Linked DNA regions of Homo sapiens: region 2 is linked to region 1. The links come from fine-mapping of genetic effects on plasma protein levels. Region 1 holds a variant in brackets. A gene starts in the other region. All regions are shown on their forward strands.

Evidence for each region. A credible set is the group of variants that fine-mapping cannot tell apart. PIP is the posterior inclusion probability: the model's chance that the variant is causal. The UK Biobank Pharma Proteomics Project read protein levels with antibody pairs (Olink). The fine-mapping took linkage between variants from a reference panel, not from the people measured, so its PIPs are less certain.
Region 2: LCN2 starts here. The variant in region 1 is the best candidate, but not a certain one, in a credible set for the plasma level of the LCN2 protein (UK Biobank, PIP 0.59).

The regions. Positions count from the first base shown.
Region 1 is chr8:129,604,261-129,620,376 of GRCh38, forward strand. All of the region lies in intron 1 of CCDC26 (CCDC26 long non-coding RNA), which reads right to left. Among named protein-coding and RNA genes, the nearest start is that of CCDC26, 68 kb to the right of the region's middle. The variant C/T (reference allele first, on the strand shown) is at 8,310.
Region 2 is chr9:128,145,303-128,153,302 of GRCh38, forward strand. It overlaps LCN2 (lipocalin 2), which reads left to right and starts at 4,151. Exons shown (of 7, transcript NM_005564.5): 1 at 4,151-4,361; 2 at 4,936-5,072; 3 at 6,336-6,415; 4 at 6,604-6,723; 5 at 6,881-6,982; 6 at 7,798-7,824. The coding sequence starts at 4,224. The coding sequence ends at 7,817. RefSeq lists an enhancer at 872-1,371 and a silencer at 5,501-5,550.

The sequences.
Region 1 (16,116 bases):
TATCACATTATCAGGTGGCAAATTTTCCAAACTTTTAAGCTCTGCTTCCTCTTGAATGCTTTCCCACTTAGAAATTTCTTCCTCCAGATATCCTAAATCATCTATCTCAAGTTCAAAGTTCCACAGATCTCTAGGGCAAGGTCAAAATGCCACCAGTCTCTTTTCTAAAGCATCACAAGTGTCACCTTTATTCCAGTCCCCAACAAGTTTCTCATCTCCATCTGAGCCTGGGCTAAGATGAGGTGAGATGAGATGAGGAACTTGTTGGGAACTGAGACCATCTCAGCCTGGACTTCATTGTCCATATCACTATCAGCATTTTGGTCAAAGCCATTCAACAAGTCTCTAGGAAGTTCCAAACTTTTCCACATTTTCCTGTCTTCTTCTGAGCCCTCCAAACTGTTCCAACCTCTGCCTGTTACCCAGTTCCAAAGTCGCTTCCACATTTTCAGGTATCTTTACAGGAGTGCCCCTCTACTCCTGGTACCAACTTACTGTATTAGCCCATTCTCACACTGCTATAAATAACTGTCCAAGACTGGGTAATTTAAAAAGGAAAGAAGTTTACTTGACTCACAGTTCTGCATGGTTGGGGAGGCCTCAGGAAACTTACAATCATAGCAGAGGGGGAAGCAAACACATCCCTCTACACAAGGCAGCAGGAGACACAAGAGCCAAGCAAGGGGGAAAAGCCCCTTATAAAACCACCAAATCTCATGATAACTCACTCACTATCATGAGAACATCAGCATGGAGGTAACTGCCCCATGATTCAATTACCTCCATCAGGTCCCTCCCACGATATGTGGGGATTATGGAAACTACAATTCAAGATGAGATTTGGGTGGGGACACAGCTAAACCATATCAAATAACAATATTAAACATCTTATCATGTGCTTATTGGCTATTTGTAGATCTTTTTTTAAAGAAATGTCTATTCAAGTCCTTTGCTTATTTTTTAATTGAGTTGTTTGGGGTTTTCTTTGTTTTATCTATATCTTCTTGGGTCAGTTTCAGTAGGTTGTGACTTTCTAGGAATTTGTCAATTTCATGCAAATTGTATAATTTATTGGAATACAATACTTTTTTATTTCTAGAAGGTCAAAAGTAATATCTTCTCTTTTATTTCTTTTTTTTATATACTTTAAGTTTTAGGTTACATGTGCACAACGTGCAGGTTTGTTACCTATGTATACATGTGCCATATTGGTGTGCTGCACCCATTAACTCATCATTTAGCATTAGGTATATCTTCTAATGCTATCCCTCCCCTCTCCCCCAACCCCACAACAGTCTGCAGTGTGTGATGTTCCCCTCCCTGTGTTCATGTGTTCTCATTGTTCAATTCCCACCTATAAGTGAGAACATGCGGTGTTTGGTTTTTTGTCCTTGCGATAGTTTGCTGAGAATGATGGTTTCCAGCTTCATCCATGTCCCTACAAAGGACATGAACTCATCATTTTTTATGGCTGCATAGTATTCCATGGTGTATATGTGCCACATTTTCTTAATCCAGCCTATCATTGTTGGACATTTGGCTTGGTTCCAAGTCTTTGCTATTGTGAGTAGTGCCGCAATAAACATAGATGTGCATGTGTCTTTATAGCAGCATGATTTATAGTCCTTTGGGTATATACCCAGCAATGGAATGGCTGGGTCAAATGGTATTTCTAGTTCTAGATCCCTGAGGAATCGCCACACCAACTTCCACAATGGTTGAACTAGTTTACAGTCCCACCAACAGTGTAAAAGTGTTCCTATTTCTCCACATCCTCTCCAGCACCTGTTGTTTCCTGACTTTTTAATGATTGCCATTCTAACTGGTGTGAGATGGTATCTCATTGTGGTTTTGATTTGCATTTCTCTGATGGCCAGTGATGGTGAGCATTTTTTCATGTGTTTTTTGGCTGCATAAATGTCTTCTTTTGAGAAGTGTCTGTTCATATCCTTTGCCCACTTTTTGATGGGGTTGTTTGTTTTTTTCTTGTAAATTTGTTTGAGTACATTGTAGATTCTGGATATTAGCCCTTTGTCAGATGAGTAGGTTGCAAAAATTTTCTCCCATTCTGTAGGTTGCCTGTTCACTCTGACGGTGGTTTCTCTTTTATTTCTAATTCTAGTAATTTGAATTTTCACTAATTTTTTGGTCAATTTAGCTAAATATTTATTAATTCTGTTAATGTGTTTAAAGAACTAGCTACTCTGTTGTTTGGTTTCTATAAATTTGTGAGTTTCTCAAATATAAGAAAATCTTTTATTGATTTCTAATTTCATTTCATTACAGTTAAGGAAGACAGGTTTTATTATTTCTATACTTTCAAATTTATTGAGGTTTGTTTTATAGCCTGCCATAGGATGCATCCTTCACTTGAAAAGAAGATATATTCTGCTGTTGTTAGGTGGAGTGCTCTACAGGATTCTGTGCAGTCTAGCGGGTTTATCATGTTGTTAAATTCTTCACTTTCTTTGTTGATCTTCTGCTACTTGTTCCATCCATTACCAAAAGTGTGATATGGAAGTCCCCAACTATTGTTTTTAATTATCTATTTCTTCTTTCATTTCTGTCAGATTATACTTCATGTATTTTGCTGCTTTCTTGTTAGATACATATATGTTTATAATGGTTACATCTTTCTGATGAATTGAACTTTTGATTATCATAAAATATCCCTCTATATCTCCAGTAAAGTTTTTTGTTTTAAGGTCTATTTTGTCTGATGAACACACCAGCTCTCTTGTCATCACTGTGTACATGACATATCTTTTTTCATCCATTTACTTTCCATTTATTTTATTTATTCTTTTGATTTTTCAGAAAGAGTCTATTCTGTTGCCCAGGCAGAAGTGCGATGGTGTGATCTTGGCCCACTGCAGTCTCAACCACCTGGGCTCAAGCAATCCTCCCACCTCAGCCCCTGAGTAGCTGGGACTACAAGCAAGTGTGCCACCATGCCTGGCTAATTTTTTTTTTTTTTTTTTTTTTTTTTTTTTTGGTAGAGACAGGGTCACCCTATGTTGCCCAGCTGGTCTCAAACTCCTAGGTTCAAGCAATCCTCCTGTCCAGGCTCCCAAAGTGCTGGAATTATAGGCACAAGCCACTGCATCCAGCCTTCAATTTATTCTTGTCTTTAAATCTAAAGTGTATCTCCTATAGACAGCATATACTGGGAACTTTTTTTATCCAGTCTCACAGTGTTTGCTTTTAATTGGATCATTTATTTTATTCACATTTTATGATACTGATGTAGTTGGATTTATGTCTGCCATTTTACTTCCTTTTTTCTATATGTCTCATGTCTTTTTTGTTCCTCTATTCCTCCTTTACTACTTTCTTTTGCATTAACTTAATATTTTCTAATGTAGCATTTTCATTTCTTTAATGATATTTTCTACTATTTTTAGTGGTTGCTCTAGGGCTTACCATAGATATACCTTAACTTACCAAAGATATACCTTAACTTACCAAAAACAGCTTCAGATTTATACTAATTTAATTCCAATGAGATATAGAACTATTGCTCCTATATACGTTTATTACCTTCTTCTCCTTTGTGTAGTTTTATTGCTATGCATATTACATATGTAAACATTACCAATTCAGCAATACTTCGTAATAATTATATTATTACTTCATATAATTTCATGTCTTTTAAAGACATTTCTTTTTAAATTTATTGGCAAGAATATTAAATTTCTATGTATTATAGAGACAAAAAACATATTCATACTGTTTTATATGGTTTTATAAAAAATTAGTTACAAGAAAAAAGGCATAAATTGATTCATAAGCCAATCAAATCAAATTCAGGCTCCTTTGAAGGTATAGTTCTGAATGTCAGTGTTTAAGGTTTGTTCTGACCACAGGAGGGTTCTTCCCAGCTATTTCTTCCCTGTTTCCCTCTCTGGTAAACTAGCGAGCCTATAACACCCACGAATCTATTAATCTCCCAATTACCTTTCACCACAACTTTCACTATTTTTGAAAGTGTCCTTGGGCTTGAACTTCTCTGCAATCTGTTGCAAATGAAGCAAGTTCCTTTGGTCAGAGATTTGGAACTCTCTGCTTCTATAGACTGTTTTCCCCCTGGTATAAATTTCTGAGCCAAGCCCTGGTACTAGGGGTGGGGATGATGGCGTGCTTCTCTCTGAGTGACAACTCCACTTTAGGAGCTGAGTGCTGAGTGAGTTGGGGAGGGGCCATCAGCCCCAGGTCCCTTTGGCTTGCCCTTCTCCACATGGAATCCTTGTCCCCAAGCTTGAGCAAGGGGCCCAAGTTTTCTCAACAGCACTACTCCCAAGGTAAAACCTCCATTCCATAGTTGAGGCTGGATGGAACAAGGGAACCCCCCGGCTCCCAGCTGTACTTGCCCAGAACCTGGCCTCAGCAACAGGTAGCTGGGAGCAGAAGGAGAAATGCTTATGTCCTATCCCCCCAAGGGAATATAGTCCTCCAACTTGGAATTAGCAGGAGTGAGGGCCCTGGGTTTTAGGCTATACCAGTCTGGAATATATGGTACATCTTGCTGAGCTGGAATGGGGGAGAGAGAATGCAGGTCTTGGCTCAACTAGCAAAGACTCTCATCGTTCTTATTGAGTTTATTATATTTTCTTAAATAAATGTTTTTTTTTCATTTACTATATGCTCTTAGAACCATTTCCAGAGACTTTAAATGCTTGGGAGAATCTTATATAATTTTCAACAAGTTTTGCTGGGGATGAGGTCTATGGAGCTGCTCACATCATTACGGAGAAACCTCAGCACAAACTTCAAATGATAAAATGCCCTGGAGCTCATTCTCTAGATCTCTTATTTTCTGTATCTAGACACACTCCCTTGATTATCTCATCCAGTTGTGTGGCTTGATATATCATCTATACATAGATCTAAATTGCAAGCCTGGTTGTCACCTCTGATTTATAGATTCTCATACCAACTGCCTCCTCGACTAGGATGTTAATAAGCATTTCAAACTTAAATCCAAATTTGAGCTTCTCCTATCTCTCCTAAATCTGTTGCTCCCACAGTCTTCTTTATTCCATTAAATTATTTCTATTTCTCAGGCCATGAAGTCAACTTTAGCTCTTCTCCGTCTCTGAGATTTCACATTTATTCTATTAGGAAATCATGTAGCTCCACCTTCAAAATAAATCCAGAATCTGCCCACTTTTGACCACCTCCATTATTATCACCTTATTTGCAACCATTATTAGCTCCAATCAGATTATTTAAATAACCTTCTAGTTAATAGTATAAGCTGTTTCTACTCTTGTTCTCCTCCAATTCATTCACCACAATGCAACCAGAGCAATTCTATTATAAAAACAAGTCCATTTATTTCACTTCTTTTCTCAGAACCCTCCAACAGTTTTCCATGTCACTTAAGACTTTTTAAAAAGTCATTTTAATAGTCTACAAGTCTTTCCACAGTCTAGCATCAACCCCAAATACTTGTCTGATCTTAACTACTCCTACTTCCACGCTCTGCCCCAGCTCTGCTGACCTCCTTACTATTTCTGCAATACGGCATTCATACTTGCCACTCAAGAATCTGATCTTGCTGTTTCTTCTGCCTATAATGCTCTTCACCTCTTCCTCCTCACCTCCCTCATGTCTTTAGACAACTATTACCCCTCCCTTATGCCTGGATCTCCTATCCAAAATTGTAACACTAAAGGGAAATCTTGGGGTGTTAACATGAAAAGGAAACTGTGCCTGAATATTGGAGCATGTGAGGCTTGGAAGTGCAAGGGAGCACCAAAATTTAATCTTAACCCTAATGGCCAGGCATTTAGATTTTATGCAAATGTAGGGATAGAAGATACGGCCTTGGACACATGTATGGTAAGGACCTACCAGAAATTGAGACCTATGCATGAAGTCAGAACATTAAACACACACACACACACACACACACACACACACACACACACACACACACACTAGAAAAGCACCAGTCCACAGAAGCAGAAAGATGCTACTAGAAAGGCAGTTTGTCAACGAACCAGAGGAGGCAAGGAGTCGATATGATTATTGAGGAAATTTAAGCATCTAGGAGTCAGTTGGACTAGAAGATATTACATCCATAAAATACCATGATTTGGTTTATCGTTAGACCTGGCTCTGCTCCTTACCACTTATGTGATCTTGTATATATCTTTTACATTTTCTGAACCTCAGTTTACTTATTTACAATATGAAAGAAAAAATCCTGTTATGTGGATCTCACACTTTATTTTCGAGGCAGAACATGAAATCGCTATGTAAAGTGAAAATACTATAAAAAGAGTAATTGAGATGTTCCTTAGAATCTCTGAGATGTAAGTTATCCTAACTCACCTCCTCCACCCCTCCCATATTTACATATATTTGAATCCAATCTCTTCCTTATGGTTTCCCCAAATCTCCGTTCTCATTTCCATGCCCACCATATTAATTATGCTCTCTGCCAATTTCCAAGATCAAAAGAATCCACTTAAGCCAAACATCTGGTGATTTTAGAAACTACACTGAAGATTTGAGGGTTCATAGCAGAGGAATATTATTTCTTACCTCACAGAACTCTGTCATCTTTTCAGACCTGTACTTCCTGCTGTCCTCTTCCACAGCCTGTGTTCCCAATATATGACTCTCTTTGCCATGCACAGACTCATGGGAAATGCACCTATTTACCCAGGTCCCACCGCTTGTCTCCTGGATTACTACAGTGCAACATTTTTTCCATCCCATCACATACATAATACCACAGTTTCACAACTGACAAAGTTTCAGAAGTTGACAAAGGTCAAGGGAGACCGTGCATTTTTCCTAAGAGTATAGATGCAAAAGCACAAACCACCAGAGTTGAGAGCATGTTGGTAAAAGAAAAAAAAACTACACACACACACACACACACACACACACAATCACATACACCATTTATTCTTTTGTAGTAATGTAACTTCAAAAATGATATGCCATACCCAAAAGTGCCAGACATTGTATGAGGTCAACTGAAGCACAGGTGCTTCACATCCCATCACATCATTCATTCCTAGGTAACATTTCACCACAGATCACTGCATTCATGTAAGTCATTCGTTCTAGATTAAGAATCTATGTGGTATAACCGTGTGTTATAATAAACCTTCAACAAACTTTTCAACAAATGCTTTACAATGCAACCTCATTAAAGAGTACTAAAAGATTTGCAAAACAGACAATTCGTATTTTCACAATATTTGGCATGTAGCAGGACTTAATTTGCTGCTACAAAAACAGAAATATTCTTTTTTTTTTCTTTGGAGATAGGGTCTCACTCCATCACCCAGGCTGCAGTGCAGTGACATGGTCAGGGCTCACTGCAGCCTCGACCTCTCGGGCTCAGGTGATTCTCCCACCTCAGCCTCCAAAGTAGCTGGAAATATAGGTATGCGCCAACACACCTGGCTAATTTTTGTGTTTTTTGTAGAGATGGGGTTTCACCATGTTGCCCAGGCTGGTCTTGAACTCCTAGGCTCAAGCTTGACCTTCCAAAATGCTGGGATTGCAGGTGTGAGCCAATGCACCTTGCCCAGAAACATTTTTACAATGTTGCTGATGTTACTATTTGGCCACATGATTCCTAATTACGACTGCTAACCTGGATCATCAATGACTTGTACCCAACTAAGAGCCTTTTCATTACCTCATTTAATCCTCATAGCTCCCATGTCTCAAAGGTACTATTGTTTTCATTTTACAGATAAGCAAACTGAAGTTTAGCCAAGGGATATCTCTTGCCCAAGATCTCCCAGCTAGTGAGTGGCAGGCCCAAGAGTTGAATTCAGAGTGTTCCTGACTCGGACATCTATATTCTAAACAGACACCCAATGGCACTCTTCTGATTTTCAATATATTACGCTTTCAGCAAGCATGATGTATAACTAATCCTTCTGGGGGCAGAAAAGAAAGGCTGTGAAGTAGAGGCTCAAACTTTTGAAAGTGATTTTGCTTTCCCTGTCTGAGATAACCCATCTGTAGAACAGGAAGATACACTTACTTTTAGCCAGGAAAAAAGTATATTTTATTTCCAACTCCCTTCTTCCTTCTAAGAAGGGTGTTACATTGTCAAAGGTGGTGAGGATGCAAATTGTAGCTAAGATGGAAGAAAAAGAACTAACATTAATGAACTTGGAGAGATATGGTGTCTGGGGAAGATAATTGAGACCGAAGGGGAAGAGAGACATAGGCAGTATGTAGCCAGGGGAAGAGATGTTATGGAAAAGAGCATGGTCAACTAAAAGTGTTTATGAAGTATTTTGGGTGATGTGTGATATAACCTAACTTTC[C/T]CTTCCATCTCCAATATAAAATATTCAACTAAAAAATTTAAAACTCACTAAGAATGGAGCTGATGTGGGAAGGGAGAGAGGTGGAGTGAAGAGAGTTGCTAAGCCCTGCTTAGGTGATGCAGACACAGGATTAGAAGTAGGGATGAGAATAGAAACAGCACCTATGGAGAAATTGTCACATCCAGGTAACATGAAAATGAAGGAAGGAGCTATAGAACTGTCACCCTGTCTTCCAGCACTATGGCTAGATCAGCCCTCAACAGGTGGTAAGCTGTGTTGCCTCAGTCTGGGGAGTCTCAGGCTAAGTTCAGGCCGGACCCTAGAAGAGTTTCAAGGAAGGAATTAGGATTAAGAAAAGAGCAGACCATGATCTCCACAGAAAAAGGATGTGTTTTGTGCATTTCTATAACTTCCATACTTAAAGTGTCTGATTAATTGCCTGGACTCAATGAGCTTTTGGTGAAGGAATTAATAAATGAATCAAATAAACACATGAGTTAATTGTTTAGTTTGAACAAAAGTGGCCTACCTGTCCATTGGCTTCAGAATGGTTTCATGGAGATGGACAGCAACCCAGAATTCTCAGAAATGCAGCCAGTGTGGCTGCCTGCGTCACCTCTTTGGTTTTGGAAAGATTACCCTTCCTAACACTCAAGAGTTTGATTTTAAATTCCCTGTACACATATGGGGAGATAGTACATAAACATACTGATCAACTAAGCTAAGCACCTAAGATTCAGAAGGGATTTACTGTCCCAGAGGCTAACACATTTAACCGAGAGCTCTCATCCCATCCTAGGCAGCTTTCCTAAGGATCAGATAACATCCCACACAATTTGTAGAGCTTCTTCCTTAAACGTGCTGTGAATCCCACCCACCACACATGCCACTAGCTATAAGACTGTGGGTAGGTCACTTCTCTTCATCATGCCTCAGTTTTCCGGAGCAATGTCCCCCATTGCTCTAGTAGTCTATGGTTCTGTGAAACTTCATTGGGTTCTTTCTGCTGCACTAAACTACAGAATCTAACCTGTGGTCTGAAGATTCCAGCCCCAGGAATAGATGTCACTTTTTAACCCATAAAATCACTGTGCTTCCATAAAATCATTTTATACACTGATATTCGGAAGAGTAAGTGTCTGTTTGGAAAGGGTTGTCAACCACAAATGTGGAAAACAGACAAAGAAGGTAATTTGTATTAAGTACTTTCAGCCAAGCACTCTGTCAGGCAAGCTGTACACATCATTTCATTTAATCTCTCCTAATAGCTCTGCAAGGTTGGCATAACTGTTTCCATTTTACAAATTGGAGAAACTGAGGCTGGCAGCAGGCAAGAAGCTCGTCTGAAGTCATAACAGTTGAAAAGTGACAAAGTCACTTTCAAGCCAACTTCACTTGGCACAAAGACGGTGTTCTCATAACTACAGCAAGGAAAACGTATAAAAATAAAGTTTCTCAGAATGTGATTAGCAATGTGATAAGCAGCATCCTGTGAGTACACAGGCTGTATCCCATTATTCTCCTACCCTCACTCAGTTCCGCAAGAAGACAATCGGCCTCCTTTAGTGTGACCACAGAAATAGAAAAGGCCATATTTCCTAATATTTGTGTTAGGAGCTGATGATAAATGATCATGCAACTAATAACACATCGATCTTACTTCACATGTCTCGATTTATCTCGTAATTTGGTTAAAATAAGAGATGGTTCAGGAATATTTCTAAAAATATCAATAAGCCCTGATGTTCTGACTAATAATCAAAAAACCTCATAAGATGAGTTTAGGACCAAATGCTTTTGTGCTACTTTCCAAGAATTTCAAGATTAAATCTTCTTGCAGGAGTATCATCAGTAGTTCCAAAAAATATTTTTTTTTGGCTTGAATAAAGCCAGTAAAGGAAAGTTTTCAAAAATAAAAACCCCTGGCATGGGTACATGATTCTACAGTTTACAAAGTCTTCTCATGCTGATTATCTCATTTGAGTCCCTCCAAGCTATCTAAATCTGTCAATCTAAACAATCTGTTAAAAGTACAGGAATTAATGACCCCTGATATATTTGAATACAGTGAGCAATATTAATTGAGAGCCTGGTGTGTGCCAAGTTCTTTGCTAAGGGCTGTAGACACAGTAGTGAACTAAACACACACAGTCCCTGCTCCCACAGAGCTTCCAGTCTAGTCATTACACAAACATTACACACAGTCGTTACACAAATAAATATACGAATGAGAGCCAGCATATTATGAAACTCATCCAGTAGAAAAAGCTGGCAACCTCCAGTAAGCAAACCTCCAGTCTTCTGTCTTCAAGATTACTAATGTTACTTACATGGTTATTTCATTTATTAGAGTCTTGATTTTTCACATTTGTAAAACAGCATGATGTTGGTACCTACCTTATCTGGTCATGGTGGGGATTAAAGAAGATAACACATGTGAACATTCACCAAACAGTAGGGGCTCAAGAACTGTTTCTTCCCTTCTCCACCCTGACCTCCCCCTTCCCTTCCAAAGCTCAACTTTGGTGACAGGACTTCCCTGCCTACCCCATCCCTCACCTACTGAGATATCTTTTCTCTCAACTGCAATAGATCTTGAGATCTTGATGTCTACTTCACTCCTTTAAGAATTAAAAAATAACTTATTTTTATTGTTTTCTTATTTTTCTTGTTATAAAAGCAATACGCTCTCATTGCAAAAAAAAATATGATACTATAGAGATGGCAAAAAAAGGAAGATAGAAAAATGAAGCAATTGCCTTCAACTCAGAGATAACCACTCTATTTGTATTTTATGTATTAATACAACCTAACATATTTCTAAGCATATTTTCATTAAAAATGTTTTCATAACGATTTTATAATATGGTTTTCTGCTACCTACTATATCATAAGCATCTTTCCACTGAAATAAATATGCTTTTGCATTATTTATACTATTCCATTGCATGGATGGAGGCTATCATTTTCTTAATCAATCTTAATATTTGCATGTTTAGGTTGTGTACAACTAATGTTGCACTGAATATTTATTCTCATAGCCATTTTTTGTTTACATATTCTGAATTCTTTTTGTTAGTATTCACTCAGCTCTTTTGACACAAAGCATTGTCCTGATCATAAATTCCATTAATTTATGGTCCATCTATGTCTTGTACTGCTTAAATTCTTCCTAGAACCCAGAATGATTCCTCGAAAATTAAAATTTATCAAGTTCAGACTGATGAACCTGAATATCCCATAGACTTTCTCTTTGAAGAGCTAAAGCTGTGCTGTCCCATGTGCTAGCCACTAGCCATGTGTGTGACTGTTTAAATTTTTAAAATTTGAAATTAAATAAAACTGAAGATTTAGTTCTTTGGCCACACCTGTCACATTTTGAATGCTCAATGGCCACATGTAGGGGTGTGCCACATTGGACAGTGCAGCCGTAGAACATTTCCATCATCCCAGCAAGTGCTGCCGGATAGTGCTGGTCCACAGGGATAGTGGTTATAAATTTGCTTTGAAAAAAAACAGATTAAAGAAGTCACTCCTGCTCCCCCATCCAATTCTCTTTTAGGCAGAACCATAATGACTCTAAAACATAGATCCAGCTCTCTGTGATCTCTGTTTATAACTCTTCTATGGGATAAAACCCATGCTCTTCCTCTTGCCTCTCCCATCAGCTGAATCTCCTTGTCTCCCTCCTCTCCTTCTCCTCCACCACATTGAACAACTCCACTCACACTTCTGTGCTTAAGCAAATCATGCCATCTGCCCAGAAGACCCTTCCTTTCTGTCTGTGATTGGCTAAATTCCATTTGTCCTTTAAGACTTGGCTTAAGCAAATGCTTCCTCTGGCAAGTCTCTCTGGACACTTCCAGGCTGTGCTAAGTTCCCTTCCACTGCAGTCCACAGCAATGAAGACATATTTACATTACGCTAAAGAAGTTTAAGCCTTAGGCCCGTTCCACGTTTCTGGCAGAAGCTCTAACAGTGCATTCGCATACTTGTATATTTTTTGTAAAATTGGCAAAAATAAGATATTTTAACTGGAATCCTTTAGGAAACTCTTCCCTCTCATTATATTTCCCTTCATGTCAATGGCATTGCTATGGCTGCAGCATTTGCAGGATAGCTTTGTGGAAGGTGAGTTGGTAATGTGTCTCTTTATCTGCAAATGGAGAGACATTTCATGTCAATTAAATAAGTAAGAAATGACAGAGTCCTGATGATAATATATATATAAAGGTACCTTTGTCATTTTTAATTTAGATATTAAATAATGGATACAAAGTTCACATAAAAAATTGAATATGAAATAACAGCAATTCATAAGAGTGACAAGAATTGGTACAAATTATTCTGACCTCAAGAAGTAAATTGCCAGAAAAAAAAAACAATCAGACCATACCTAAGGTAGTAAATTCACTAAGAAAACATTTTTAATAGAGTAATCAATAGGCTCTCAGATAGTTTGGTAGTCCAATTAATAAAGAGGAGTGAATCCTATAAACACATTGGAAAAATATTTATGTTCCCTCCTGGTTTAACTGACACTGACAAAGCAATAAATTCATAATACACCACTAAACAAGGCAACAAGGACAAACTTGTTAATAAATGTCATCAGTGAAAAGAGCGTGGTAGGCTAAATTGGCTACCCCAAAAAGGTGCTCATTTTGTAATGCCCAGAACCTGTGAATATGTTCTCTTACATCACCAAAAGACCCTTGCAGATGTTATTAAGGTTATAGCCTTAAAATGGGGAGATTATCCTGGATTATCTGGATGGACCTAATCTAATCACATGAGTCTTAAGAATGGAAAACAGAGACAGAAGAGTAGGTCATGAAAGGATACATGAAAGAGAACACTGTGGACTTTAAAGACAGAGGAACAGGATCTCTAGTCAAAGAATGTGGGTGGCCTCTAGAATCTGGGAAATGCAAAGAAATGGCTTCTCCTCTAGAGCTTCCAGAAAGGAATGCAGCCCTGCTAGAACACTGATTTCCCTCCAGTAATATCTGTGTTAGACTTCTGACCCACGGGACTAAAAGGTAATAAATGTGCATGGTTTTAAGTCATTACATTTATGGTAATTTGCTAAAGCAACAGTAGAAAGCTATTAAAAAGAGAGTTTAGAATTTGTCAGTACATAGAAATGCCCTGAAACCTGATTGCTCATGTAAGAAGAAAACTTCAGAAATTTTTCAAAATTGGATAACAATTCTAAAAATTTACAAGACTTATTAATGGGCTCCGAGGCTGAAGCTTTTCTAAGCTATTAGTTATGTAAAATAAAAATACCTTGTGCATTGATTTAAAGGAAGGACTGAATTATCTTTCCATTTTTCTCCAAATAAAATATTACAAAACTATTACATGTAGAAACAATCAGAGAATATACAGTCAAAAGTAAAGAAAAAATATTATAAATATGGGTCAGGCATTTAACTGATAAAAATACAGTATGATATGGTCTGGCTGTGTCCACACCCAAATCTCAACTTGAATGGTAGCTCCCAGAATTCCCATATGTTGTCAGAGGGACCCAGGGGAAGGTAAATTGAATCATGGGGGCTGGTCTTTCCCGTGCTATTCTCGTGATAGTAAGTAAGTCTCACGAGATCCGATGAGTTTATCAGGGGTTTCCACTTTTTCTTCTTTCTCATCTTCTCTTGCTGCTGCCATGTAAGAGGTGCCTTTCACCTCCTGCCGTGATTCTGAGGCCTCCCCAGCCATGTGGAACTGTAAGTCAAATTAAACCTCTTTTTCTTCCCAGTCTTGGGTATGTCTTTATCAGCAGCGTGAAAATGGACTAATACACAATCTCTGTCTTCATCTGGGAGATTTTAGGGCTATCCCTGTATATTAGGTTGAGTTTCCCCAGAAGCAAATCCTGAGACAGGGAGAATCCAAACAGTTTGAGACAGGATACCAGCACCAAGAACGGCTCCACAAACAAGCAACCTATGCAGTTGCCCGAGGCCTGTGCTCAAAAGGGTTTTGCACTTAGTTTAATGCTCTGCTATTACCATTTCGAAATTCTTAATAATTTTTCAACAAGGGCCTCACAATTTTAATTTGCACTGGATCCTGAAAATCCTGTAGCTAGTCCTGACCACAAAATACTAGCAGGAGGGTGAGAAAATGACAGAAAGGAAGATAACTTCTAGAATGTGTTATTGGGCAAGTTGTTGCTGTGGTATCTGGAGCCCAATCACAGTGGGGAGCTCTAGGAGTTTGCGTGGGAAATGTTTGACAGTTGTCCCATGCAACAGGTGTTTATCCTCCAACAAAATATTCATCCTTCACCACCTAGGGGTGGCAGGCTCCCAGAGGCATTAACTCCCCCACACTTCCATCCCACTACCTTCAAACATTGGGAGGAGAGGTGCAAGAGCTTGTAGTAGGAACCTGAGGCATTTACTAGAAAACTGAGTGTCAAGAAAATGTGGTTAGGTCCCCACATTGAGTGCTTCTGTTGACTTTTTGTAATTTTTAATTTGTTGTAATATCTATTCTTATACCAAATAAATATTCAGTTTTATAAAGAATTTTCTATTTCTAATTGTCTTTTTTCTTTTAAAATACTCATTATGTATATAAGCTTCAGGTCCCATGAAACTGAATCCATCTATACCTTCATGATAAAAATTACCAGTACAATTAAAATTATTTCCTTTGCCATCTATTTCATTGGGCCAAACATATTCCTCTAGAAGTCCTTAGCTCTGAGAAGATCATGTTTTCAGCCATCACCTCCCTCACTTACAATTCAATATAAAATAACATTAGTCAAAATCAGTGCCTTCAAAGCGTCTGGTAGGGCCTCAGGGTATGGATTTGGAAGTTGTACACTGCACAATTCTAGGGCCCACCATTTATATCTTAGTTTCTTTGAAGAGTACCTTCTGGAATTGTGCAGTACACAATATGCATGATAGCCCTGCAGACTTCTGATACCTAATGTGGCCATCAAAGTCCACTTTATTTTCTGACATTAAATGCTTATCCATTTTATTTCTGTTCCAAATATTTCCATCTCTCCCTCCACTGAGCTCTCATTGTTTTTGCGCTTCCTTTGGTAGAGTGTTTACTATACTATTTTTTAATCAGTGATTTTCCCAGCTAGACTGAACTTCTGGAAAATATGGGATTTTCCGCTATTAATCTTTACATCCATAATGCTGTAGCGTCTAGTATAGTTGCCTATGTTATCTTACTCATCATTGCATTATGCCTGAATCATAGTAAGTATTCAATAAATATTAATATCCAATAAATACTAGTTGACTGAGCATACAATAATGAGTGAATGAACAAATGAATCTTTACATTCTATGTGTCTGTATCATTTTACCCTATTTTCCTACCTAGCACTTCTGACCATGTTTATTTAGTTATTTATTTTTTCTCTATACCCAAAATTCATGTTCCATGAGGGTAGGGAAACTTAATGTTTTGTTTATTTATGTAATCTTATAACTGTTTGGTGCCTGGAACACTAGAAGGTGCTTGAAAAAAAAAGTTTGTATTAAATCAATAAATGAGAAAACAGACTACCCAATAAACTACAATTATTCCCATTTTATGGACAAGGAATGAGGTTCTTGGAGTTAAGCAGCTAGTAATCGTCAGCACCCTTATTCAATCTCAAGTTGGTTTGACCCCAAAATGCATCCTCTTTCCATTATTCCATCCTCCCTCTCATTACAGTAAGAGTCCTCTTAACTGTACTCTCTTATTTAAGACTAACTTGGTCACTCTTAACTTGTGCACACATGTTGGCTGAGGCCCACAAACCTGAGAGCTCTAGCTA
Region 2 (8,000 bases), not on the chromosome of region 1:
CTCAAGCAGCAGGGCCCGCTTCCCCCTGTCTGGTGGACCCCAGGGGTTCACCAGAGGGAGGAATCCAGTGGGTGTACTTGGGGGAGGGTTGGGAGGGGATTTTCACAGGCGGGCAGGGTCCCTGTCAGGTAGAAGGGGCAGGAGGACCTCAAGGCCCCTTGGCGAGCCTTGGCATGAGAGAGGATGGGGGTTGGAAAACTGTTTCTGGAAACAGGAGACTCAGCCCAAGACCCTGGCAGGGCAAGCTCCTCACACTAAACAGCCCCTCCCGTTCCTGGGTGTTTGAGAGTCGGGTGCCCAGCCCGGACCTGCCGTGACCAAGGAGAGCTGATCTGCAGACACCAAGACTTCCTGCATCTGTGACTGGGCCTCCTGGGGGCATCTTGACTGTAGACTCCTTCCAGGTGTGGTACCTGGCTCCTAGAAGCCTAGCCAGTCACCTCCTGCCCAGCCTTCAAACACGTCAGAGGGTTAACCATTCATGGCCACGCTGAACACTACTCACAAGATCCGGAAACCAGAATGGGGAGTCAGACTGGATTCCTGAGATGTAAGGACCGCCAGGAAGCATCTTGCTGCCTTCATGCATGGATGAGACCTGGGCCTCTCCATGGGAGGACAGGCTGCTGCAGTCTCCAGGGAGCACCCACTCTTGGGCGTGGAGAGTGGGGACAGCTGCCTGCCAGAGACTGCGAGGGGAGGTCGGGAGCAGCCGGAGTACTTCTGGTCTCTGGCCACGGAAAACCCAGGCAGGGACCTGTCTTTAAGCTCCTGCTGTTGCTAAGCCGACCTGCACAGCAGGACTTGGGAGCCCAGCCCAGCTCCTCTCAGGAGGGGCTTGGCCCCATTGCTTCTGTGTGGCTCGTTGAGGGCTCACTAGAGGCACCTGCAGCTCCTTGAGAGAAAGCAGGCCCAGTCCAGGGGCCACGGTGGAAACCATAGGAGGGGCCGAGGGGAGGCAGGTGGGTGCCTGTCATGCCATGCACAGTGCCACACGTGTCGTGGAGATTGTCCCAAGAGCCCCGGGGTCCAGGGACTCCCCCAAGCGCTGAGCAGTGTGAACACTTGTGTACCCTCATTGGCTAGGGCCCAATGAATGGGGCCCAGTGGAAAGGGGGTGGGTGAGGAATGGGGCCCCAGTGTCCTGTTGACCCTGGAGCCCTTGGAGTCGGTCAAGTCTGAATGGGAGGTCTACACCACAGTCCTTACCCAACCTTCCTAGTGCTGAGTCCTGAAGCTTGTGTGGTGGGTCTATGTAGAGCTGACCCCCTCCCTGCAGCCCTGCTAGACTCTGAAGAGAGCCAAGGCCAGTGGGTAGGAGACAGGTCTGGAGCTGGTGCAGAGAGAGGAATGAGCCCTGCATGGGTTTGATCAGAAACTCAGCCTTGTGTAGGGACACCCTGGGGCCCGGTGCTGTCCATGCATGACCTCACAGAAGCGCAGAGCTGCCCTCTCTACAGAGGAGCGCCTGATTTGTGTGGGAGCTAGGCAGAGATCTGCATGCATGCGGAGGAGCCAGGCTTCAAGCCAGCCTGGGGGACCCCCAAGCGGGACTATCTCCCCTTCTGCACCTGGCTCTGGTGTCTTCCCACTGTGGACCCAGTGCCCTGCTCACCCACCACATTCATACCCTGGAGTCCTGGGTCCTCAGAGATCCATGACACTGCCTCACCCCCAACTTCAAATTCTCTGGGGCTCCACCCGCTGGTCTCAGCTACGTGAAGCAGTCACCGTAGACTAGAGGGTACTTTTTAGATTTAGGTCACTCTATCATCCAGGCTGGAGTGCAGTGGCACAATCATAGCTCACTGCAGCCTCGGCTTCCTGGGCCCAAGTGATCCTCCCACCTCAGCCTCCCCGAGGATACGTGGTTTTTTTTTTCTTTTTTCAGACAGGGTCTCACTCTGTCTCCCAGGCTGGAGTGCAGTGGTGCGATCTTGGCTCACTGCAGCCTCCGCCTCCCGGGTTCAAGCCATTCTCCTGCCTCAGCCTCCTGAGTAGTTGGGATCATAGGCATGCATCACCCCACCTGGCTAATTTTTGTATTTTTAGTAGAGACGGGGTTTTGCCATATTGGCCAGGCTAGTCCCTGAGGATACATTTTTTTTTTCCCCGAGATGGAGTCTCCCTCTGTCGCCCAGGCTGGAGTGCAATGGCGCAACCTTGGCTCACTGCAACCTCCGCCTCCCAGGTTCAAGCAATTCTTCTGCCTCAGCTTCCCGAGTAGTTGGGATTACAGGCATGCGCCACCATGCCCAACTAATCTTTGTATTTTTACTAGAGACAGGGTTTCACCATGTTGGTCAGGCTGGTCTTGAACACCTGACCTCAGGTTATCCACCCGCCTCAGTCTCCCAAAGTGCTGGAGTTACAGGCGAGAGCCACTGCGCCCAGCCGAGGATACCTTTTTTTTTTTTTTTTTAAGACAGAATATCGCTCTGTTCCAGGCTAAAGTGCAAAGGCGTGATCTCGGCTCACTGCAACCTCCGCCTCCCAGGTTCAAGCTGTTCTTCTGCCTCAGCCTCCCGAGTAGCTGGGATTACAGGCGCCTGCCACCATGCCCTGCTAATTTTTGTATTTTTAGTAGAGATGGGGTTTCACCGTGTTGGCCAGACTGGTCTCGAACTCCTGACCTCGTGATCCACCCGCCTCAGCCTCCCAAATGCTGGGATTACAGATGTGAGCCACCGCACCCGGCCTGGCAGAGGATACTTTTTAAGGTCAAAGACAGTAGCAGAGGTGGAGTTCCTGGGAACAGGGTCATGAGGGGAAGAGGGGGTTCGGAGGGAGCGAGTAGCCACTGGCTACCTCTAGAAAGGGAAGGCTTTGGTGCAACATCGTTCCCCTGCAGTTTTACTCATCTTTGCTTCCTGCCCTTTCATCATCCAATCGGGCAGGCAGGACAGGGCCTGAGGGGGCAGGGATCCAGTGGGTGCCTCTCTAGACTAACCCCAGCTCAGGACTCCCAGAGCCCCTTCCCTGAGGCCCTGCTGCCCCCAAGCCCAGATTGGGGATCCCAAGCAGCACGTAGGCAGAGCCAGTGAGGTCCCCGTTAGTCCCATTGAAAGCTCTAAAACCAGCGAACCCTCAGTCCAGCCTCAGGTCAGGCATCCAGGACGGCCTCAGCCCTCATGGGTGAGCCATCTCTGCGGACACTGCACAGGGCCTACGATCCATCGCTGCCTCCCGAGGATGCCAGCCAGGCCCCCGTTGAGATAACTGCTTCCCTGCTGGACAAGGCTGGGACCAGCCATCTCGGTGACAGTTCCAGAACCCCTGGCCTGGGCTGCTGGGTTCAATGGAAAAAGGCTGTGACTAGAGTCAGGGGGATGGTCTCAGTGACCTCAAGGATAAGGCCAGATCCTTGCACTGTCAGTGACCCAAAGCAACAGGTGTCCAGAGCAGCAGTGTGGCGCCTTCACGCCCCCACACATCAGCCCAACTCACCCAGGACAGGGACTGTAGCCTCAGCACTCAACCCATGTGCCCTGTGTGGGGTCTCTTCCCACTGCACTCACAGGAGAGGAAGGGTCCCTCAGGGGTCCACTGGGGTCCCCTCCTGCAAATGGGGCAAGGAGAGGGGCAAGGGGCTGTCTCAAGGCCCCTGGAGCACATGCAGGTCCTGGACTGGGGCTCCTGGGAGGGCCATGATTCTGGGCTCCATGAGTTCAGAGCAGACGCCTTGTTTTTCCTTGTCCACTGTCAGCCACCCCACCCTTCCCTGACCCTTAAAAGAACCAGGAAACAGCACATGATCTGTTGGAAGGAGGCATTCATTCTTTCCTTTCTGTGGGTGTGGGGAGGGGACCACAGGGCACATACCCCACCCTGGGATCCAGCTGAGCAGGGGGGTCAGAGATGACAGCTCTTCCGGCTCACAGGCCACCGGCCCACATACAGGGCAATCAGAAGAAAGAAACAGCACAAGGAAGGCACAGAGGGAGTCGTTGTCCCTGCCAGAGGTGCAGCACTCCGGGAATGTCCCTCACTCTCCCCGTCCCTCTGTCTTGCCCAATCCTGACCAGGTGCAGAAATCTTGCCAAGTGTTTCCGCAGGAGTTGCTGGCAATTGCCTCACATTCCTGGCCTTGGCAAAGAATGAATCAACCCACCCTAGATCCCATAAATAGGGCCACCCAGGTGAGCCTCTCACTCGCCACCTCCTCTTCCACCCCTGCCAGGCCCAGCAGCCACCACAGCGCCTGCTTCCTCGGCCCTGAAATCATGCCCCTAGGTCTCCTGTGGCTGGGCCTAGCCCTGTTGGGGGCTCTGCATGCCCAGGCCCAGGACTCCACCTCAGACCTGATCCCAGCCCCACCTCTGAGCAAGGTCCCTCTGCAGCAGAACTTCCAGGACAACCAAGTAAGGGGCCAAGAGGGGCACCTGCAGGCAGGGCCTGGGGAAGAGTGGGAGCAGAGGGGAGGAGAGGTGAAGAGACTCAGGAAGAGCGTTGGGCAGGACTCTAGGAGTCCAGGGTCCAGGTTTCAGCTCACTCTGTGCCACCAGGGTCCCCTGGTGGAAACCATGCCCCTTCCCCCCATCCCCACCCCCTCTCAGCCTGAACAGACTCCCCCAGGTCCACATCCCCTCTCCCATAACCCCCATTGTCCAAAGAAGGTGGGAGCACTTTTAGTCCCCCTGCACAGATGAGGAAACTGAGGCTCAGGAAGGCCCACCAGCCACATGCCTCCTCCAGTGAGGAGGTCACCCTCCTCCCTGCCAGACTCAGAACCGCCTCTTCCCCCAGGACTCCCTTCTGGACTGATGGCCTCCTGCTCCTGCCCCTTCACCAGTGCAGGCCCAGCCTGGGCCCTGCTGCCCAGCTAGAGGGGCTCATGGTTCCAAGCTGGGCGGCCCAGAGGTGCCACAGGGACAGAGCTGGAGGGGTGGCTCCTAGGGCCATTCCTGGGTTGTGCCTCTTATCAGTCCCTTGCAGTTCCAGGGGAAGTGGTATGTGGTAGGCCTGGCAGGGAATGCAATTCTCAGAGAAGACAAAGACCCGCAAAAGATGTATGCCACCATCTATGAGCTGAAAGAAGACAAGAGCTACAATGTCACCTCCGTCCTGTTTAGGTGAGGGCCGACATCTCCTGGGGGTGTGAGAGTCAGACTGACGTCACAGGCAAGGGATGGCCAAAGCTGAGGGATCCTGTCGTTCACCTCGCTGTTCTGCCCGGAATTCATCTGTGTTCATCCTTCCTCTGTTCCTTAGAGCAACGTTTATAGCACATTTCCATGCAGACACACAGACAGTGGTGGGGATGGACATGCACAGTCGTTAGAAAACAAGACGGAGAGAGGAGGGGTGCCTGGGAGCGGGAGGAGGGGACACTGGATCCAGCCTGGAACCCCACCCAGTGCCTTCATGGAAGGCTTCCAGGGAGGTGGCCTTAAAAGAGCCAACCTGCTTCAAAAGGAAATGTGGGGTGTTCCCGGCAGGGGCTGGAGTCAGAGAGAGCCCCCCCTTCAGGAAGGAGCAAGCCATCGCAGGGTCACCCTGAGCAGAGCTGCTGAGCAGCCTGGAGGGGCAGGTGGCCACGCTAGCACCTAGCACGGTCCTCAGGCCCCGCCCCAGCGGATCTGCTGCGGAGTGGCTTAGAGCAGGGCTCTTGGGCCGCAGGGTGGGGAGACTTGGTGGGGTGCAGCCTAGGGGGTCGGGAGACCAGCGAAAGTGAAGCGGGGCCGTCACAGGTGTGAGAGAACAGGCGCAGGGTGAAGAGGCAGGGAGCCAGGGATCAGCCGCCCCCAGTGGGTTTCTGACTCTGGCAGCTGAGTGGATTGGGATTGGGGCATTTGTGGAGCAAGGAGCAGAATACAGACAGGTTGGGGAGCTCAGCCCTGGGGTGCCAGGGGATGGGAAGTGGGAGGACTCAAGGATGGGGTCAGGTTTGACCCGAGAGCTAGGGGAACGGCTGGCATGGAGCAGACTGGAAGTACCGAGGTGGATCCCCGGGAGAGGGTATAGGAAGGGAAGCAGCAAGCTGAGTGCAGGGGAGAAATGCAGGGTTTCTGTGTGTTGGGTGGCGGGGGGGGTGAAAGCCACCCAGGGAGGCAGCCAAAGGAAAGAAGGACATCGGGTGCTGGAGGGTCTGAGTGGGGTCCAGGGGCCCCAGGCAGGCCAGGAGGGACAGCCTGGTGTCAGCTCAGGGAGAAGGCCCAGGCCCATCTCGGCTGGGTGGGGTAGGGCCCCTCCAGGTAGTGGGGGATGAGCTGTCACGGGTTGGGCCGGACTGAGAGCAACAGAACCCTGCTGCTGCCCTGGCCCCACCTTGTCCAGCACAGGAGGCCCAAGCCTGGGTTGTCTCCCCTCTCACCCACCCATCTCTCCCTCCCAAGGAAAAAGAAGTGTGACTACTGGATCAGGACTTTTGTTCCAGGTTGCCAGCCCGGCGAGTTCACGCTGGGCAACATTAAGAGTGAGTCTTGAGTGAGGTGGGGCACTGAGTTGGGGCTCCGGGGAGCTGGGTAGGGGCACAGACCTTCCTGCCCCTCCACACAGATGTGTTGTATGGGGAGAAGCCCACGTTGATGGGCTGGGGAGGGAGGGGACAGCTCCCTCCTCCCATCCAGGGCAGGGCTGACCCCTCACCGTCCACGCCTGCAGGTTACCCTGGATTAACGAGTTACCTCGTCCGAGTGGTGAGCACCAACTACAACCAGCATGCTATGGTGTTCTTCAAGAAAGTTTCTCAAAACAGGGAGTACTTCAAGATCACCCTCTACGGTGGGTCCTCTCCCATCCCCTCGGGGACTGGCTCCTGATCACACTTAGTGGGAGGGGAGGCCGGTCCCCCATGAGGAAGGGATCTGAGGCCTCATCTACTCATTCAACGATATTTATGTGGTGTCTGCCAGCCACTCACTGGCCATCTTGGTCACAGGGAGAACCAAGGAGCTGACTTCGGAACTAAAGGAGAACTTCATCCGCTTCTCCAAATCTCTGGGCCTCCCTGAAAACCACATCGTCTTCCCTGTCCCAATCGGTAATGGCCAGTCTGGATGAGGGGACGGGGACATGGGGACTGTTCAGGCAGGATGCTTCCCTACCAGGGATCAGGGAGAGGAGGGACTCCGTCCTCAGCTTCAGTCACTGGAGCAGTGGATGGTCCAGGAGCTCCTTGGAAGCCACTCTGGGCCCAGGAAGACTGTGCCCCACCCCAGGGTCTATGGGACTCCCAGGGACCCAGGCCGCAAGTGCTCTTTCCTGGCAGTTTAGCCCGGGTCTGCCCAGACAAGGATTTCAGGCCCAGGCCTGAGTATCCATTTCTCAGTCTCACTGGCCTGACACCTCTGGCCACCCTCCCAGGCCCCCTTGTTCTGGGCCATCTCCCCCGACCCTCCCAGGCCTCGTCACCCTGGGTTTTGCTGTCCTGGCTGTCCTCTCTCCCCTGGGGACTTGCTCACCACTGACTTGGGAGCTGTCCTTGACTCCAGGGAGCCTGGCTTGGGCAGGAGGCTCCAGCCAGGCCATTCAGAGAGCCACTGGCCTCCCCCAGGCTGAGAGACTGCCTGGACTGGTAAACAGGCAGGAGACCTGGGTGCCCGAGGAGCCTGGGAGCTGGGCCTCACTCAGGGCAGCCCCTCCCCAGGCCTTTCTCCCACATCCCCTGCCCTGCCATCCACCCCTCTGTTGCCCCATCTCTGAAAGGAACCCCCATATCTTCTGCAGCTGGGCCAGGTGGGGCAGGGGCTGCCCAGGGGCAGTGCAGAGGACCTGGCAGTCAGGGATCACACACACACACTCATACACGCACACACACACACAGCTGCCTGTTCTGACGGACTTTCTCCCTAACAGACCAGTGTATCGACGGCTGAGTGCACAGTGAGTGTGGCTGGGCGGCTGCGAGGGGGCTTGTGGGAGGCCAGGGTGCAGTGGGCTGGGGGTCTTGGGCCTGCCTTTGCTCATCCCCCTGCCCCCCAGCACTGCTGCTGTCTTTATTCTGCTGTCCCCATCTCGGGTGCCTCCCATTTCCCCACCCATCACCCTCATATCCACCT